Linked DNA regions of Homo sapiens: region 1 is linked to region 2. The links come from fine-mapping of genetic effects on gene expression. A gene starts in region 2. The other region holds a variant in brackets. All regions are shown on one strand. Distances are between the middles of the regions. Region 1 holds the start of DPM3 (dolichyl-phosphate mannosyltransferase subunit 3, regulatory). Region 2 holds the start of GBA1 (glucosylceramidase beta 1).

Region 1 (4,468 bases), 99 kb before region 2:
GGGCTGTCCGCACAGGAATGGGGTTAGGCTGTCAGAAGCGCAGCCCCCTGCGGGCTAAGTCGGCTCGGGCCTCCTGTATCTGGCTCTGCAGCTCGCGTGCGGCGTCCTCGCAGTCATGAAAAGTGGCCACACGATAGCCCACAGTGCCCAGGGCATAGCAGCCGGCGGACACCAGCAAGTAGGCGGGCAGTGGCCACAGGACTTCCTGGCAGGACAAGGGCAGCTCCAGGCCCAAGGCTCCCGTGGTCAGGGCCACCCAGGTGGAGCCCAGGATCGCTAGTCCCCAAAGCCACTGCGCTAATTTCGTCATGGTCACTGCGAGAGAAGGAAGCAATGCTCCCCTGAGGAGCAGAAAGGAAAAGCGGACCAAACTCAACCGAAGCCCGCCCACGGAGAGCATTAAAACCAGCCCTGGCCAGAGGGGAATCGCCGATCCCAGAGGTCCGAACTTGAGTGCCCACAAAAGGTGGAAGGGCCCCTTCCACCTTGCTACCCCCTCTATATTTGAGACCCACTCCCCATCTCTCGCCCTCCCCATTCAGCCTTCAACCTACACTTACCTCTACCCCACGTCTCCCCTTCCCCGCGCGGCCCGGATGTTGGCGTCCGGAAGTCCTCCCTGGTTCACGTTCCGCTTCCGCGCGGCCTTCTGGGAGTTGTAGTTCACATGGCGGCGCCTGGTGTACTCCTGGCCAGCGCCTCAATCTAGGCGGGGGTACAGTGGGCTGTGCTCCGCAAACGGGGAGCAGGCCGGGTCTGGAGAGGCCTCGGCGCTGCTTTCCCACCTTGGGCTACGCTCCAGGCTGGCGTGGGGCTTGAGGACATCCTTAAATGTTGCAACAAGATGGGAATATAATACCATTCCCCTTAAACTCAATTCTCCAGCGCTGAAATCCATTCCTTCATTCACTAGTTCATTCATTCGAAGATTTCTTTCTTTCCATTCTTGACAGGGTCTCTCTATAGTGCCTAGGCGGGACAGAACTCCTTTTTTTTTTTTTTTTTTTTTTTTTTTTTTTTGAGACAAAGTCTCGCTCTGTTGCCCATGCTGGAGTACAGTGGCTCGATCTCAGCTCACTGCAACCTCTGTCTCCCGAGCAGCTGGGATTACAGGCGCGCGCCACCACGCCGGGCTAATTTTTTTATTTTTAGCAGAGAACGGGGATTTCACTATGTTGGCCAGGCTGGTCTCAAACTCCTGACCTCAAGTGACTGGCCCACCTCAGCCTTCCAAAGTGCTAGGATTACAGGCATGAGCCACAGCGCCCGGCCAGAACATTTCTTGATTACCATGATAGACTTTGGAGATACAGAGATGTCAAGAGACTCGACCCCTTTCAGGTGGAGGGGGAAAGCAGGAGTCAGTGAAGCAGTTGCATTGACAACTAACCATGAAGGCTTGAGATTATTGTTAGAACAGAGGTAGTCATATTTTTACAAGGACAACAACCAATATAACTTGGAGCCAGAGGAAGAAGGGCTCCAGGAGTCTGGGTTTCAAAAAAAAAGAAAAGAAAAGAAAGACCAGAAGAATTACCTGAAGTGGTGAAGGCATTGAAAGAAAGAGTATAATTCTTTAGAACAGTTTTGGGGATGAATTTATTATGTATAGAGAGAAAGAGAGAGAGAGAACAAAGTAAGAGAAAAGGTTAGGCAATTATCAACTTCAGAGGAAACAAAGAGTTATATAAGAAAGGAAAGACAATTGATAAGCCTGTCTTATAAAGACCACATCTGTAGTTTGACAGTTAGGTTTATTAACTTGCCACAACAGAGAGATCACACACTAGAAGAACTGTGGGGCAACTCATTAAAAAGGAAGAAATATGGTCATTCAGATGATATGGTTTGGCTGTGTCCCCACCCAAATTTCAAGTTGATGTGTATCTCCCAGAATTCCCACGTGCGAGGGACCTAAGGGGAGGTAATTGAATCACGGGGGCCAGACTTTCCCGTGCTATTTTCATGATAGTGAATAAGTCTCACAAGATCTGATGAGTTCATCAGGGGTTTCTGCTTTTGCTTCTTCCTCATTTTTCTCTTGCCACCGCCATGTAAGAAGTGCCTTTGTCTCCCGCCATGATTCTGAGGCCTCCCCAGCAATGTGGAACTGTAAGTCCAATTAAACCTCTTTTTGTTTGCAGTTTCGGGTATGTCTTTATCAGTAATGTGAAAATGAACTAATACAACAGGATATGGGAAAGGCTTGACTTTAAAATTTATATTTTAAAATTTATTTACTTATTTATTTAGAGTTGAAGTCTCGGTATGTTGCCCAGGCGAAGCTCAAACTTCTGGGCTCAAGTGATCCTCCTGCCTCAGCCTCCCAAGTGGCTGATACTATAGGCTAGCTAAAATTTAAATGAA[A/G]CAGTGTTTTGATCGGTTCGAGGTAAGCATAACTTTAAGTGAAGGGATCAAGAAGTCCAAGCTGAGGGACCACTTGGAAATTACAAAGTCAAGATAAATATAGAATATAGTGTCCAAAAACCCACTATCTAGGCTGGGCACAGTGGCTCGTGCCTGTAATCCCAACACTTTGGGAGGCCAAAGTAATCCACGTGGCTCAGAACTTCTGGCAAGAGTAGGATGTTCCATTCGCACTGACTGATTTCAAATAGCAAAGTTTGTGACTATGATTTTAGAAAATGAAGTTTCTCAGCCGTATGTCCTGGATGTTAATTAACAAAAGCAGTTTTTACAGATTCACAGTCTTAGCACAAACACAAATGGCTCAGCTGTGAAGAAAATTTTCACAGCCGTAACGATGTAAACACTAAGTATTGATTTAACTAAAAATTGGAGCTGGGGACAGTGGAGCTGTGATCCCAGAACTTTGGGAGGCCTAGGTGGGAGTGTTGCTTGAAGAAATGTACAGATAAGTACCAGAAGAAGCAGCCTAGAAACTGGAGCGTAGTTGTATATGTAGGTTGTATATGTAAGGGTTAAAGAAGAGGAGCAGGGGATGGTTATTTTTCATTAAAAGCCTTGTAGAGTTACAGCTCTTTTTTTTTCTATTCTTTTTCTTTTTTTCAGACAAGGTCTTGCTCTGTTGCCCAGGGTGGAGAGCAGCGGTGCAAACATGGCTTACTGCAGCCTCGACCTCCTGGACTCAAGCTATCCTCCCACCTCAGACTCTGGAGTAGCAGGGACTACAGAAGTGGGCCACCACCACCACGCCCATCTAGTGTGTGTGTGTGTGTGTGTGTGTGTGTGTGTGTGTGTGTGTGTGTAGACGGGGTCTCCCTATGTTGCCCAGGCTGGTCTCAAAATCCTGGGCTCAAGCAATTCATCTCAGCCCCCACAAAGTGCTGCTATTGCAGTCGTAAGCCACGGCGCCCACCGAAGTTACAGCTTTCAGAATTTGTTGAGCAGGTTTCCCGGTTTTCACTTGAAAATGCCCCGCCACCCCGAAAAATATTTGTTGAACTAGTTGGCTTTTAAAACTATACAAATTCCTTTGTTAAAGTAAAAATTAAAACAAATAAAAACTTTTCTTTTTTTTTTTGAGACAGAGTCTCGTTCTGTGGCCCAGGCTAGAGTACAGTGGCATGATCTCAGCTCACTGCAACCTCTGCCTCCCATGTTCAAGCGATTAGCCTGCCTCAACATCCCAAGTAGCTGGGACTACAGGCACGCACCACCACACCCAGCAAATCTTTGTATTTTTATTAAAGACAGGGTTTCACCATGTTGGTCAGGCTGGTCTCGAACTCCTGAGCTTGTGATCCTCCCACCTCGGACTCCCAAAGTGCTGGGATTACAGGCGTGAGCCACCGCGCTCAGCCCAAACTTTTTTTTTTTTTTTTTTTGAGCCGGAGTTTTGCTCTTGTCGCCGAGGTTGGGGTGAAATGACACGGTCTTGGCTCACTGCAACCTCCGCCTCCCGGGTTCAAGCAATTCTCCTGCCTCAGCCTCCCGAGTAGCTGGGATTACAGGCACCTGCCACCATGCCTGGCTAATTTTTGTATTTTTAGTAGAGTTGGGGTTTCACCTTGTTGGCCGGGCTGGTCTCAAACTCCAGACCTCAGGTGATTCGCCCCCTCGGCCTCCCAAAGTGCTGGGATTACAGGCGTGAGCCACCGCTCCTAGCGAAAAACATTTTTTAGGCTGGGTGCGGTGGCTCACGCCTGTAATCCCAGCACTTTGGGAGGTGGAGACGGGTGGATCACGAGGTCAGGAGATCGAGATCATCCTGGCTAACACGGTGAAACCCCGTCTCCACTAAAAATACAAAAAAAAAAAAAAAATTAGCCGGGCGTGGTGGCGGGTGCCTGTAGTCCCAGCTACTTGGGAGGCTGAGGCAGGAGAATGGCATGAACCCGGGAGGCGGAGGTTGCAGTGAGCCGAGACTGTGCCACTGCACTCCAGCCTGGGTGACAGAGCGAGACTCTGTCTCAAAAAAAAAAAAATGTTTTTAAACCTGCTATACGACCTTCAAAGCCCTAGCCACATTTCCATTTCCACACCA
Region 2 (4,257 bases):
AGTCCTAATAGTGTCTGAGTCAGGGCCAAAGGGAACTTGGGCTCCTGGGTTGGAACCTGTGGAGGCTGGCACCTGGGTGAAGCGCAGGCCTTTCTGAGCCTGAGTCCGTAGCAGTTAGCAGATGATAGGCGGTGAAATCTTATTTCACAGGGCATTAAAACAGGAACCAAATGTCAGGGATGGGCAGAAGTCAGGGTCCAAAGAAAGGGCAAAGAAAAGTGTCAGTGGCTCACGCATGTAATCCCAGCACTTTGGGAGGCCGATGTGGGCAGATCACGAGGTCAGGAGTTCGCAATCATCCTGGCCAACATAGTGAAACCCTGTCTCTACTAAAAATACAAAAAATTAGCCGGGCGTGGTGGCAGGCACCTGTAATCCCAGGTACTCGAGAGGCTGAGACAGGAGAATCACCTGAACCCGGGAGGTGGAGGTTGCAGTGAGCTGAGATTGTGCCACTGCACTCCAGCCTGGGTGACAGTGCGAGACTCTGTCTCAAAAAAAAAAAAAGAAAAAAGAAAAGTGTCTGCTGGGCTCGGTGGCTCACACTTGTAATTCCAGCACTTCGGGAGGCCAAGGCAGGTATATCATTTGAGGTCAGGAGTTTAAGACTAGCCTGGTCAACATGATGAAACCCTGTCTCTACTAAAAATACAAAAATTAGCCAGGTGGTAGTGGCGCACGCCTATAATTCCAGCTACTCAGGAGGCTGAGGCAGGAGAATCACTATAGCCTGGGAGGCAGAGGTTGCTGTGAGGGGAGATCACACCACTGCACTCCTGTCTCGCCGACAGAATGGGCAGAGTGAGATTCTGCCTCAAAAAAATTTTAAAAAAAGAAAAGAAAAACGAAAAGTTTCAATGGCTCTATGTCATCTTGTCCCCTTCCTCCTCACCTTCTTCAGAGAAGTACGATTTAAGTAGCAAATTTTGGGCAGGGGGTGACAGGGCAAGGATGTTGAGAGCAGCAGCATCTGTCATGGCCCCTCCAAATCCCTTCACTTTCTGGAACTTCTGTTCTGGCTGCAGGGTCAGTAGCAGGCCTGAGGACATCCACAGGGAATAAGGGTATCAGTACCCAGCGGGAAACTCCATGGTGATCACTGACACCATTTACCTCTAGGAGGACCCAGCCTGGCCCAGGGGGTGAGGGGTGTAATGGTTACCTGTGCCCGTGTGATTAGCCTGGATGGGCCCCATACTCAGCTCCATCCGTCGCCCACTGCGTGTACTCTCATAGCGGCTGAAGGTACCAAGGGCAGGAAAGGTCGGGGGGTCAAAGGAGTCACAGTATGTGGCATTGCAGACACACACCACCGAGCTGTAGCCGAAGCTTTTAGGGATGCAGGGGCGGGCACCTGGGAGGGAGGGAGTACAAGCAGAGTGAGGTCTGATGAAGACATGGAGAATGGACACATCTGCTAGGAGAGACTGAACACGGTTTCAAAATTCCTCACCCCTTGGCCGGGCGCAGGGGCTCACACCTGTAATCCTAGCACTTTAGGAGGCCGAGGTGGGCGGATCACCTGAGGTGAGGAGTTTGAGACCTGCCTTGCCAGCATGGTGAAACCCCGTCTCTACTAAAAATACAAAAATTAGCTGGGCGTAGTGGTGGCCGCCTGTAATCCCAGCTACCTGGGAAGCTGAAGCAAGAGAATCGCTTGAATCTGGGAGGCAGAGGTTGGAATGAGCCAAAATTGCACCACTGCACTCCAGCCCAGGCAACAGAGTAAGACTCTGTTTCAAAAGAAAAAAAACAAAATCCTCACCCCAAAGTTGGTCTCAGTCACTCAAAAGGATTTATTGAGCACCTACTAAAAGTCTACCACCAGCTTACTGGAAGGCTACCAAAGGACTATGAGGCAGAAGGGAGGCTCTGTGCTACCTCCCCACTGCCTTGACTCACTCACCTGATGCCCACGACACTGCCTGAAGTAGAAGCAATCCTGTGAGGCTGCCAGCCATGATGCTTACCCTACTCAAAGGCTTGGGACATTCCTGAGGACAGAATGAGGAATGACTGAAAAGCAAGCCCCTCTCCACCCCTCAACTACTCTCCTGGGCAGGGCTTAGCTGCCTTTGGGTGCCCATGGCCCGGTCTCCCACATTCATTAGGACAAGGCCCACAGAAACCTGGGTGCAGCTCTCCCTGCAACCCTTCTGATGACAACTCTCTGCCCACCCCAAATCAGGATGCTCCCCACCACTCTTCCCACCCATTTCAACTTCGACCCCTCCCTCCATCTGTGCCTTGCTCAAAGAGCCATGATGGCCCTGGATTCAAAGAGAGTCTGTCATTCATTAAATTCCAGTGCCAGGATTCCAGAAGCACTGTGACAATGCTGATTGGGAGCTCTCTCTCTTACCTCTCTGGAAGGACTTGAAAACTCCATCCCCTCAGGGTCATTAGATGAAGAGAAGACCACAGGGGTTCCAGAGTCTCTGAAGGATAGAGGATCCACTAAACAAAAACAAGGATGCAGGTACCTGCCTTAGCTATAGGCACTAGGTTAGCCCTGCAAGTAATTCCGGCTTCCCGATGTGGATGGGTCATGTGATGACTAGGAGCGTCACATGACACAGGAAGTGAGGCAATCACAGCCATATTTCTAAAGGGCAATTGGCTTCCTCTCATCTGTTACAGATTATATGCCCTATAAAACTCTGGAGGGCATGTATGGGTGACAACTTTAGGAAGAGCCTAGAACACAGATTTGCATGGAGAATGGGGTAGAGGCTCCTAAATCCCAGAGGATGGGAACCACAGCAGGCACACTTCTTTTTTGATAGAAATGTCAAAAAGGTACAAATAAAGCTGATATAATTTAAAAAAAAAAACTTCACTGTGCAAAATACTGACACTACCAAGATGTTTAAGACAGTCTTTGCCCTATAGAGGTGTGTGAGGCATGGAAGTCAGACACACAGATATTTACAGATAAAGACAGAAACGGTAACAGGTGTGCATGGAGAGCTCTCTGAGATGAGGAGGGACCATTCGTGGGTGGGGAATTATCCAGGATGGCTTCACAGAGGAAAAAGTGAGGGGGGTTATTAGCCAGTGAAGTGCAGGGCACAAGAGGGTGGGACACTGGCAGTGGGATGACAGGACTGGAGGGAGGGAGTGGTCAGTGCGGCTCCTCTGCAGCGTCCCTTGTTTCATCATCAGATGCAGATGGTAATAACTGTTCTTCCTTCCTCACAAGACAGGGAGGTTTGTAAAGTCGTTCAAAAACCAAAGTGTTGTACAAAGCCATATCCTCAGTGGACACAAGGAGGAAGCTGTCCATGGTGTGGCCTCATGAACCACATCAAATGAGATTTAGCGGGAGTGGCACACACAGTCATGACCTGACTAATCCCAGCTCTCAGCCCATTTCCTTGCCTGGAAAATGGAGGCAATGCCACAACCTCAAAGGGTGGTTACTGCAGTCAGTGAGGTAAGTGCAGTGCCTGACCACTTGGTAGGCACCTGGGAACTACTTGTCTCTTGTTTGTATTTTTTGTTGTTGTTGTTTTTTGAGACAGAGTCTCACTCTGTTGCCCAGGCTGGAGTGCAGTGGCGTGATCTTGGCTCACTGCAACCTCCACCTCCTGGGTTCGAGTGATTCTCCTGCCTCAGCCTCCCAAGTAGCTGGGATTACAGGTGCCCTCCAACATGCTCAGCTAATTTTTTTATTTTTAGTAGAGATGGGGTTTCACTATGTTGGCCAGGCTGGTCTGAAACTCTGGACCTCAGGTGATCTGCTGCCTTGGTATCCGAAAGTGCTGGGATTACAGGCATGAGCCACTGCGCTGGACCCCAGCCATCCTTTTTGTTCTTTAAATGATCTCAGTGAAGTCTTTCTAGATACACTCCAAGCAAAATTGATCATTTCTTCTTCTAGGTTCCTCCAGTAATTTTTTTTTTTTTGGTTTTGAGACAGAGTCTTGCCCTGTTGCCCAGGCTGGAGTGCAGTGTGATCTCGGCTCAAGCAATTGCCCTGCCTCAGCCTCCTGAGTAGCTGGGATTACAGGAGCCCACCACCATGCCCAGCTAATTTTTGTATTTTTAGTAGAGATGGGGTTTCACCATGTTGGCCAGGCTGGTCTCGAACCCCTGACCTCAGGTGATCCACCAGCCTCAGCCTCCCAAGGTGTTGGGATTATAGCAATGAGCCACCACACCCGGTCCCTCCAGTAATTAAGTACAGTCTCAGTGAGACAGCAAGTTTGGAATCCTGGCTACACCATTTACTGGCTGTTTGACTTTCAATAAATC

The links. PIP is the estimated chance that this variant, and not a neighbour inherited with it, causes the effect.
Region 1: its variant is the best candidate, but not a certain one, in a credible set for the expression of GBA1 in testis (GTEx, PIP 0.54).

Annotation. Positions count from the first base shown.
Region 1 is chr1:155,139,931-155,144,398 of GRCh38, forward strand. DPM3 (dolichyl-phosphate mannosyltransferase subunit 3, regulatory) reads right to left here and starts at 601. Exons shown (of 2, transcript NM_153741.2): 1 at 561-601; 2 at 1-315. The coding sequence starts at 310. The coding sequence ends at 32. RefSeq lists enhancers at 541-670, 841-900. The variant A/G (reference allele first, on the strand shown) is at 2,368.
Region 2 is chr1:155,238,724-155,242,980 of GRCh38, forward strand. GBA1 (glucosylceramidase beta 1) reads right to left here and starts at 2,526. Exons shown (of 11, transcript NM_000157.4): 1 at 2,363-2,526; 2 at 1,907-1,994; 3 at 1,163-1,354; 4 at 893-1,039. The coding sequence starts at 2,389.